Linked DNA regions of Homo sapiens. The protein of the gene in region 1 purifies or fractionates together with the protein of each later gene. This does not show direct contact. Each region holds a gene or a part of one and is shown in the gene's direction. Other genes may lie near its edges. The genes, in order: PADI4, MAP1S and GMPPA.

Region 1 (3,649 bases):
ACTCATTTAAAATGCACCTTTCTGGGCTGGGCACGGTGGCTCACGCCTGTAATCCTAGCACTTTGGGAGGCTGAGGCAGGTGGATCACTTAAGGTCAGAAGTTTGAGATCAGCCCAGCCAACATGGTGAAACCCTGTCTCTACTAAAAAATACAAAAATTGGCCGGGCGTGGTGGCGCATGCCTGTAATCCAGCTACTCAGGAGGCCGAGGCACGAGAATTGCTTGAACCCTGGAGGCGGAGGTTGCAGTGAGCTGAGATTGCGCCACTGCGCTCCAGCCTGGGCAACACAGTGAGACTCCATCTCAAAAATAAAATAACCAGCCTGGCCAACATGGTGAAACCCCGTCTCTACTAAAAATACAAAAAATTAGCCAGGTGTTGTGGCATGTGCCTGTAATCCCAGCTACTCGGGAGGCTGAGGCAGGAGAATCACTTGAACCCAGGAGGCCAAGGTTGCAGTGAGCCGAGATTGCACCATTGCACTCTAGCCTGGGCGACAGAGCAAGACTCCGTCTTGAGAAAATTAAAAATAATAAAAATTAAAAATTAAATTAAATTAAATTAAATTTAAATTAAATAAAATGCACCTTTCTGGCTGCCTGTGAGCTGCTGGGTCTTATCCCTGAGGACGGGGCCCATCTGCATTTTGGGGAGGCCCAGGCAATCTTCCTGCAGTCTGAGAGCCGCTGACAAGTGTGCTGGGGTCTCAGGAGACCCTCTCCTCCCCTCTTCTGATAGCTTCAGGGGCAGAAGAGTAAGAGGGTAATGTGGTCAGGACGCAGGCTGGAATCCAGTGAGGACTGTATTCCGGTCCCAGCACTGTTCCAGGTGGTGTGACCTTGAACAGTGAACTCATATTCTGTCTTCTCCCAAGTTGATATGGTTTGGCTCTGTGTCTCCACCCAAATCTTATCTTGAATTGTACTCCCACAATTCCCACGTGTTCTGGGAGGGACCTGGTGGGAGATAATTTGAATCATGGAGGTGGTTTGCCCCATACCATTCTCATGGTAGTGAATAAGTCTCATGAGATCTGATGGTTTTATCAGGGGTTTCCACTTTTGCATCTTGCTCATTTTCTCTTGCCGCCGCCATGTAAGAAGTGCCTTTTGCCTCCCACCATGGTGTCCCCAGCCATGTGGGAGTGTAAGTCCAATTAAACCTCTTTTCCTTCCTAGTCTCAGGTATGTTTTTATCAGCAGCGTGAAAATGGACTAATACAGTAAATTGATACCAGTAGAGGGGGGCGTTGCTGAAAAGATACCCAAAATGTGGAAGCAACTTTGGAACTGGGTAACAGACAGAGGTTGGAACGGTTTGGAGGGCTCAGAGGAAGACAGGAAAATGTGGGAAAGTTTGGAACTTTCTAGAGACTTGTTGAATGGCTTTGACAAAAATACTGATAATGATATGAACAATGAAATCCAGACTGAGATGGTCTCAGATGGAGATGAGGAACTTGTTGGGAACCGGAGCAAAGGTGACTCTTGTTATGTTTTAGCAAAGAGACTGGTGGCATTTTGTACCTGCCCTAGAGATTTGTGGAACTTTGAACTTGAGAGAGATGATTTAGGGTATCTGGCAGAAGAAATTTCTAAGCAGCAAGGCATTCAAGAGGTGACTTGGGTGCTGTTAAAGGCATCCAGTTTTAAAAGGGAAGCAGAGCATAAAAGTTCAGAAAAGTTGCAGCCTGACAATGCAATCGAAAAGAAAATCTCATTTTCTGAGGAGAAATTCAAGCCAGCTGCAGAAATTTGCATAAGTAACAAGGAGATTAATGTTAAGCCACAAGGCAATGAGGAAAATGTCTCCAGGGCATGTCAGAGGTCTTCATGGCAGCCCCTCCCGTCACAGGCCCAGAGGCCTAGGAGAAAATGGTTTCGTAGGCCAGGCCCAGGGTCCCCATGCTATGTGCAGCCTAGGGACTTGGTGCCCTGCATCCCAGCTGCTCCAGCCATGGCTAAAAGGGGCCAGTGTAGAGCTCAGGCTGTGGCTTCAGAGGGTGGAAGCCCCAAGCCTTGGCAGCTTCCACATGGTGTTGAGCCTGCAAGTGCACAGAAGTCAAGAATTGGGGTTTGGGAACCTCTGCCTTGATTTCCAAAGATGTGTGGAAACGCCTAGATGCCCAGGCAGAAGTTTGCTGCAGGGGTGGTGTTCTCATGGAAAACCTCTGCTACAGCAGTGCAGAGGGGAAATGTTGGTTTGGAGCCCCCACACAGAGTCCCTACTGGGACACCACGTAGTGGAGTTGTGAGAAGAGGGCCACTGTCCTCCAGACTCCAGAAGGGTAGATCCACTGACAGCTTGCACCGTGTGCCTGGAAAAGCCACAGACACTCAACACCAGCCTGTGAAACTGGCCTACCAGGAGGGAGGCTATACCCTGCAAAGCCACAGGGGCAGAGCTGCCTAAGACCATGGGAACCCACCTCTTGTGTCAGCATGACCTGGATGTGAGACCTGGAGTCAAAGATCATTTTGGAGCTTTAAAATTTGACTGCCCTGCTGGATTTTGGACTTGCATGGGCCCTGTAACCCCCTTGTTTTGGCCAATTTCTCCCATTTGGAATGGTTGTATTTACCCAACACCTGTACCCCCATTGTATCTAGGAAGTAACTAGCTTGCTTTTGATTTTACAGGCTCATAGGAGGAAGGGACTTGCCCTGTCTCAGATGAGATTTTGGATTGTGAACTTTTGGGTTAATGCTGAAATGAGTTAAGACTTTGGGGGACTGTTGGGAAGGCATGATTGGTTTTGAAATGTGAGGATATAGGATTTGGAGGGGCCAGGGGCAGGATGATATGCTTTGGTTCTGTGTCCCCACCCAAATCTCATCTTGACATGTACTCCCATAATTCCCAAGTGTTGTGGGAGGGACCCAGTGGGAGATAATTTGAATCATGGTGGCAGTTTCTCCCATACTGTTCTCATGATAGTGAATAAGTCTCATGAGATCTGATGGTTTTATCAGGTTTTTCTCCTTTTTCTTCTTCCTCATTTTCTCTTGCCACCGCCATGTAAGAAGTGCCTTTTGCCTCCCACCATGGCCTCCCCAGCCATGTGGAACTGTAAGTCCAATTAAACCTCTTTTTCTTCCCAGTCTCAAGTATGTCTTTATCAGCAGCGTGAAAACGGACTAATACACGGGTGGAAGGGGTACCCACTAGTTCCTGCCTCATAACTTGTTAGATGGATTCCATGAGCTAATGCCTGCTAAGAGCAGATGGACCGGACGTGCCAGGAGCCTCTGTTCAGGCCACAGGTGACCCCTGAGCCACCTGTGTGTCCCTCCCAATCCTTCCAGGCTGAGCTTCAAATTCCAGAGCACTAAGGAGCTGCTTTTCTGCTCTCTCTAGTATTTTTGAAAATGAGGACTTCCTGAAGTCAGTGACTACTCTGGCCATGAAAGCCAAGTGCAAGCTGACCATCTGCCCTGAGGAGGAGAACATGGATGACCAGTGGATGCAGGTATGTGCCCTGCGGGGCAGGCAGGGTGACTGTCCCTGAGGGCCAAGAGACACTTGGGGGACCCGGGCTCCTGGGGTTCAGCCTGGTGCCTCACCGGCCACTCTTCCTTAGATGGACAGGGAGATAGGAACCTGAGAGATCCTTGGGCCGGGAGGCTCAAGCAAGTGATTCATCTGAC
Region 2 (3,649 bases), on another chromosome or scaffold:
CCACCACGCCCCCACCTGTGCAGCCGCCCATACTCACCATCACCTGCCCCACCTTCGGTGACTGGGCTCAGCTGGCACCCGCTGTGCCTGGCCTTCAGGGGGCGCTCCGGCTCCAGCTGCGGCTGAACCCCCCGGCGCAGCTGCCCAACTCTGAGGGCCTGTGCGAATTCCTGGAGTACGTGGCTGAGTCTCTGGAGCCACCGTCCCCCTTCGAGCTGCTGGAGCCCCCGACCTCCGGGGGCTTCCTCAGGCTGGGCCGGCCCTGCTGCTACATCTTCCCTGGAGGCCTCGGGGATGCCGCCTTCTTCGCCGTCAATGGCTTCACTGTGCTGGTCAACGGTGGCTCAAACCCCAAGTCCAGTTTCTGGAAGCTGGTGCGGCACCTGGACCGCGTGGATGCCGTGCTGGTGACCCACCCTGGCGCCGACAGCCTCCCCGGCCTCAACAGCCTGCTGCGGCGCAAACTGGCGGAGCGCTCCGAGGTGGCTGCTGGTGGGGGCTCCTGGGACGACAGGCTGCGCAGGCTCATCTCCCCCAACCTGGGGGTCGTGTTCTTCAACGCCTGCGAGGCCGCGTCGCGGCTGGCGCGCGGCGAGGATGAGGCGGAGCTGGCGCTGAGCCTCCTGGCGCAGCTGGGCATCACGCCTCTGCCACTCAGCCGCGGCCCCGTGCCAGCCAAACCCACCGTGCTCTTCGAGAAGATGGGCGTGGGCCGGCTGGACATGTATGTGCTGCACCCGCCCTCCGCCGGCGCCGAGCGCACGCTGGCCTCTGTGTGCGCCCTGCTGGTGTGGCACCCCGCCGGCCCCGGCGAGAAGGTGGTGCGCGTGCTGTTCCCCGGTTGCACCCCGCCCGCCTGCCTCCTGGACGGCCTGGTCCGCCTGCAGCACTTGAGGTTCCTGCGAGAGCCCGTGGTGACGCCCCAGGACCTGGAGGGGCCGGGGCGAGCCGAGAGCAAAGAGAGCGTGGGCTCCCGGGACAGCTCGAAGAGAGAGGGCCTCCTGGCCACCCACCCTAGACCTGGCCAGGAGCGCCCTGGGGTGGCCCGCAAGGAGCCAGCACGGGCTGAGGCCCCACGCAAGACTGAGAAAGAAGCCAAGACCCCCCGGGAGTTGAAGAAAGACCCCAAACCGAGTGTCTCCCGGACCCAGCCGCGGGAGGTGCGCCGGGCAGCCTCTTCTGTGCCCAACCTCAAGAAGACGAATGCCCAGGCGGCACCCAAGCCCCGCAAAGCGCCCAGCACGTCCCACTCTGGCTTCCCGCCGGTGGCAAATGGACCCCGCAGCCCGCCCAGCCTCCGATGTGGAGAAGCCAGCCCCCCCAGTGCAGCCTGCGGCTCTCCGGCCTCCCAGCTGGTGGCCACGCCCAGCCTGGAGCTGGGGCCGATCCCAGCCGGGGAGGAGAAGGCACTGGAGCTGCCTTTGGCCGCCAGCTCAATCCCAAGGCCACGCACACCCTCCCCTGAGTCCCACCGGAGCCCCGCAGAGGGCAGCGAGCGGCTGTCGCTGAGCCCACTGCGGGGCGGGGAGGCCGGGCCAGACGCCTCACCCACAGTGACCACACCCACGGTGACCACGCCCTCACTACCCGCAGAGGTGGGCTCCCCGCACTCGACCGAGGTGGACGAGTCCCTGTCGGTGTCCTTTGAGCAGGTGCTGCCGCCATCCGCCCCCACCAGTGAGGCTGGGCTGAGCCTCCCGCTGCGTGGCCCCCGGGCGCGGCGCTCGGCTTCCCCACACGATGTGGACCTGTGCCTGGTGTCACCCTGTGAATTTGAGCATCGCAAGGCGGTGCCAATGGCACCGGCACCTGCGTCCCCCGGCAGCTCGAATGACAGCAGTGCCCGGTCACAGGAACGGGCAGGTGGGCTGGGGGCCGAGGAGACGCCACCCACATCGGTCAGCGAGTCCCTGCCCACCCTGTCTGACTCGGATCCCGTGCCCCTGGCCCCCGGTGCGGCAGACTCAGACGAAGACACAGAGGGCTTTGGAGTCCCTCGCCACGACCCTTTGCCTGACCCCCTCAAGGTCCCCCCACCACTGCCTGACCCATCCAGCATCTGCATGGTGGACCCCGAGATGCTGCCCCCCAAGACAGCACGGCAAACGGAGAACGTCAGCCGCACCCGGAAGCCCCTGGCCCGCCCCAACTCACGCGCTGCCGCCCCCAAAGCCACTCCAGTGGCTGCTGCCAAAACCAAGGGGCTTGCTGGTGGGGACCGTGCCAGCCGACCACTCAGTGCCCGGAGTGAGCCCAGTGAGAAGGGAGGCCGGGCACCCCTGTCCAGAAAGTCCTCAACCCCCAAGACTGCCACTCGAGGCCCGTCGGGTGAGTACTGGAGCTGGGGCCCTGGGCTGGGTTAGCAGCTGCTTAGGCTGGAGAGCATAGCTCGTCCCCCTGTTTTTACATTTTCAGTTTTTTTAAAAGAGATGGTCTCACTCTGTCTCTGAGCTGGAGTGCAGTGGTGTGGTCACAGCTCATTGCAGCCTTGAACAATGGGGCTCAAGCCACCCTCCCACCTCAGCCTCTCCAGTAGCTGGGACTACTGGCACCGCCACTACCCCTGCCTAATTTTAAAGTTTTTGGTAGAGATAGGGTCTTACTATGTTGCCTGGGCTGATTTCAAACTCCTGGCCTCAAGCTGTGTGCCCACCTCAGCCTCCCAAAGTGTTGGGATGACTGGCGTGAGCCACGGTGCCCTGCCAGTTCTGTTCTTTTTTTTTTTTTTGAGACAGAATTTCGTTCTTGTTGCCCAGGCAAGAATGCAATGGCACGATCTTGGCTGACTGCAACCTCTGACTCCCGGGTTCAAACAATTCTCCTGTCTCAGCCTCCCGAGTAGGTGGGATTACAGGTGCCTGCCACCACGCCTGGCTAATTTTTGTATTTTTAGTAGAGTTGGGGTTTCACCATGTTGGCCAGGCTGGTCTCGAACTCCGGACCTCAGGTGATCTGCCCACCTTGGCCTCCCAAAGTGCTGGGATTACAGGCATGAGCCACTGCACCCAGCCAAGTCCTCCTGTTCGTAATTACTTCGTGACCTCAGCCGTGCCCACCTCTCCGGGGCTCAGTTTCTCCTGTGAAATGGAAACTGACCTCAGTGTTGAAGCACTTGCCATTCTGAGGTGCCTGGACAGGTGAGCACGTATGCCAACTGTGGGTTTCTAGAAGCCACAATAAGTAAAATGAAACAGTTGAAAATTTAAATAGCGTATTTTATGTAACTGATTGGTTAGGAGGACCCGGCCTATGGTTGCACTCATAGCAGAGCAAAATCAGCAAAGAGAAAAGGCACATAGGGTGAAGTCCAAAGGAAACCAGGCAGAAGCTTCCAGAATCCTCTCCCAGTGGGGCTGCACACCACAGGCTTCATTTCTCCAGTAGCAAGTTGTAACAGTGTGTCCCTCATGGAAGCTCATTAGACACAGCATGCCCAGGTTTCCTATTGGGCCATTACATAGGCATCTTCTGCCTGGCACCCACACTCTAGACTCCCCAAAAAGGAGAAATCAGGTGTGTGGTCCAGTCCAGGCACAGGGAGCCCCTCTCAGACAGGGAATGGTGGGAACCCTCTGCCTAAGATCCAAATTCCCAGAGACCAGCCAAAGGCTCACATTTTAAGCAGGCCTTGCTGAGAGGAGGGTCTCTG
Region 3 (2,948 bases), on another chromosome or scaffold:
CGGTGGCGGTCAGGTGCCCTGGCTCATGGTATCTGTTTCCTAAGATCCACTGAGCTGGCTCTCGGGTCCCTGGGGACAGGTACCTGCAGGAATTTGCCCCCCTAGGCACAGGGGGTGGTCTTTACCATTTTCGAGACCAGATCCTGGCTGGGAGCCCCGAGGCATTCTTCGTGCTCAATGCTGATGTCTGCTCCGACTTCCCCTTGAGTGCTATGTTGGAAGCCCACCGACGCCAGCGTCACCCTTTCTTACTCCTTGGCACTACGGTGAGGGGGTCAGGAGGGCTGGAGGGTGTAGAGGAGGTGATCCCAAGAGCTTCCCGGAATTCAGGGTGTTGGGGAGGCAGGGGCGCCCCGGGAGTTGGTGTGGGAGCTGGCGTCAGGAGGGAGATGCGCTGCTCTGGCAGCATGGAGGTGTTAGTGGAGACCCCGAGCCCTCTGGCTGTTCAGAAGTAGGGAGGGGGAGGGCAGCTGTCAGTTTCCACCCTTGCTGAAGGCCTGTCAGTGGCAGAGCTGCATGCCAGGTGCTGTAGCGGAGGGAAAGAAAGAAAAAACAGACGTGGCTGCCCTGGAGCAGGCGGGTCACTGTCTCGGGTGTGTCTGTCTTTCAGGCTAACAGGACGCAATCCCTCAACTACGGCTGCATCGTTGAGAATCCACAGACACACGAGGTGAGAGCAGAGTGGGGGCTGGGTGGGTGCCTACTCTGTGTCATCATCCCCTCTACCTCAGGCCTCTAGAGAATGCTGGCACAGTATGGGGTGGGCTCTAGTCTTGTCAGACAGGTGAGACACTCCCGATTAATCATCTTATATCCCTTTAAGAGAGATTGACCAGGGGGAGGGGGGGAATGGTTAATTTCCCTGGGGGTGGTGCTGTAATAAATGTATGCACAGTGCATGATGGGAACACCAAGGGGGCCCCAACCCAGCCTTGCTGGGGTGGGAGTAGAGAGGGCTTCCTGGAGGAAGCAAGGTCTGAGCAGAGTCCCATTTGTCTAGATGACAAAGGAGACAGGAAGGTACTACAGGCAGAGGGAATGGCAGGTATAAAGGCCTGGAGGCAGGAAGTAACATACCAGAAGCAGGAGCATGATAGGCAGGGCAGCAGGGCTCTGTCCTGTTTTGTGAAACTCCCTTCTCCTAAGCCCCTTGACTTTCACATAACCCTCCCTCCTTTATTTATTTATGTATGTATGTGTTTATTTATTTATTTTGAGACAGAGTCTCACTTTGTCTTCCAGGCTGGAGTGCAGTGGCATGATCTTGGGTCACTGCATCCTCGACCTCCCAGGTTTAAGCCATCCTCCCACTTCAGCCCCTCAAGTAGCTGGGACTATAGGCATGAGCCACCATGCCCAGCTGATTTTTTTTTTTTTTTGAGACAGAGTCTCACTCTGTTGCCCAGGCTGGAGTGCAGTGGTGCGATCTTGGCTCACTGCAGCCTCTGCCTCCTGGGTTCATGCCGTTCTCCTGCCTCAGCCTCCTGAGTAGCTGGGATTACAGGCAGGTGCCAGGCTAATTTTTGTATTTTTAGTAGAGACAGGCTTTCGTCATACTGCCCAGGCTGGTCTCGAACTCCGGAGCTCAAGTGATCCACCTACTTCAGCCTTCCAAAGTGCTAGGATTATAGGCATGAGCCACCACCATACCTGGCGTCACATACTCCTTTTATTTGTTCGTGCTTTAATATAAAACATACATATAAACACGCACACACACATGCATGTACACACCTACACACATATAGTTTTGTGCTCAGCACCAGGTAGCTGTGAGAGAAACAGAGCCAAATGGGTGCAGTCCCTGCCTCTTGGTTACTGTGAGTCTAATAGGAGTGACAGAATCAAAAGGCAACCTTTGCAAATGATACAATGCCATGGGTGAGGCGTGGCCAGAGTTCAGGAGTGCCCAGGCATGAACAGCTAACTCGGGCCAGCAAGAGAGGACGCACAGAGAGAGTGACAGTGTCAACTGGGTTTGGAAAGGTGGGCTTTCCAGATGAAGAGATGAGAAAGGCCATTCCAGGCACAGGCATGCAGTCGGGTGGAAATGCGTCTGAGAGGTAGGTGGTGGGGAGGATCAGGCAGGGAAAGCCATGGACTTTGGATTTATCTGAAGCTGAATCAGGTGAAGGGCAGTCATCTCAGGGTTTAAAGCCAGGCAGCAGTAGGATGCGGATGCGCACTGCATTTTAGCCAGGCCACCCTGGCAGCAGGGAGGAGAGGCAAGAAGGGCCTAGAAATCAGAGGGTCTTAGGGGACTGTGGCGGTAGTCCCTTCTTCTACTGAACCCAGCCTGCTCTGTCCTCAGGTATTGCACTATGTGGAGAAACCCAGCACATTTATCAGTGACATCATCAACTGCGGCATCTACCTCTTTTCTCCTGAAGCCTTGAAGCCTCTTCGGGATGTCTTCCAGCGTAATCAGCAGGATGGGCAATTGTGAGGCAGGCCCCATAGCCCTGTGACCCCAAGTACCCCCAGTCACGGACCCCAACACATACCAGTCTCTGCAGGCTCCATCTCAACTTGCTCACCTTCCTCCTCCCCTCTCCCTTCTCCACTTGCCATCTCCAGCAGAGCCTCCTGAGTCCCTCCCCTTCTAACCTCATTCTGTCCCTCTTCCTTATCCATCCCAGTTCCTCCTCTGTCACTGCCTGCCCACTCCCCTTCTGGTCCATTTCTCCTAAGCCCTGAGTGTCCCAGAGACGTCTTTCAGAACAGACAGCAACACACAGTTGGGCGCACACATGCTCGGGTGCAGACGTGTGCACGTGCACACACAGACAGACATGCATACTCTCAGGCTGAGGCTCCCCTTGGAACATAGCACCAGAGCCCTGCTCACCAGTCCCAGGGTCTTCCCTCCTGGGGCTAGAAGCTGTTCCCTTCTAGGGATCCTTGCCTTAACCCCCCACCGCCCCATCTAAGGCCTCCTCTGCTCATAG

What was found.
Region 2: the proteins of PADI4 (region 1) and MAP1S purify together in Homo sapiens (affinity purification with mass spectrometry; one large-scale study listed by BioGRID and IntAct). This does not show direct contact.
Region 3: the proteins of PADI4 (region 1) and GMPPA purify together in Homo sapiens (affinity purification with mass spectrometry; one large-scale study listed by BioGRID and IntAct). This does not show direct contact.

Annotation. Positions count from the first base shown.
Region 1 is NC_000001.11:17,342,669-17,346,317, forward strand, and holds part of PADI4 (protein-arginine deiminase type-4), read left to right. Parts: intron 1-3,359; coding exon 3,360-3,471; intron 3,472-3,649. UniProt on the Homo sapiens protein: Catalyzes the citrullination/deimination of arginine residues of proteins such as histones, thereby playing a key role in histone code and regulation of stem cell maintenance.
Region 2 is NC_000019.10:17,725,845-17,729,493, forward strand, and holds part of MAP1S (microtubule-associated protein 1S), read left to right. Parts: coding exon 1-2,328; intron 2,329-3,649. UniProt on the Homo sapiens protein: Microtubule-associated protein that mediates aggregation of mitochondria resulting in cell death and genomic destruction (MAGD). Plays a role in anchoring the microtubule organizing center to the centrosomes. Binds to DNA. Plays a role in apoptosis.
Region 3 is NC_000002.12:219,501,772-219,504,719, forward strand, and holds part of GMPPA (mannose-1-phosphate guanylyltransferase regulatory subunit alpha), read left to right. Parts: intron 1-79; coding exon 80-266; intron 267-610; coding exon 611-670; intron 671-2,311; coding exon 2,312-2,442; intron 2,443-2,948. UniProt on the Homo sapiens protein: Regulatory subunit of the GMPPA-GMPPB mannose-1-phosphate guanylyltransferase complex; reduces the catalytic activity of GMPPB when part of the complex. Mediates allosteric feedback inhibition of GMPPB catalytic activity upon binding GDP-alpha-D-mannose.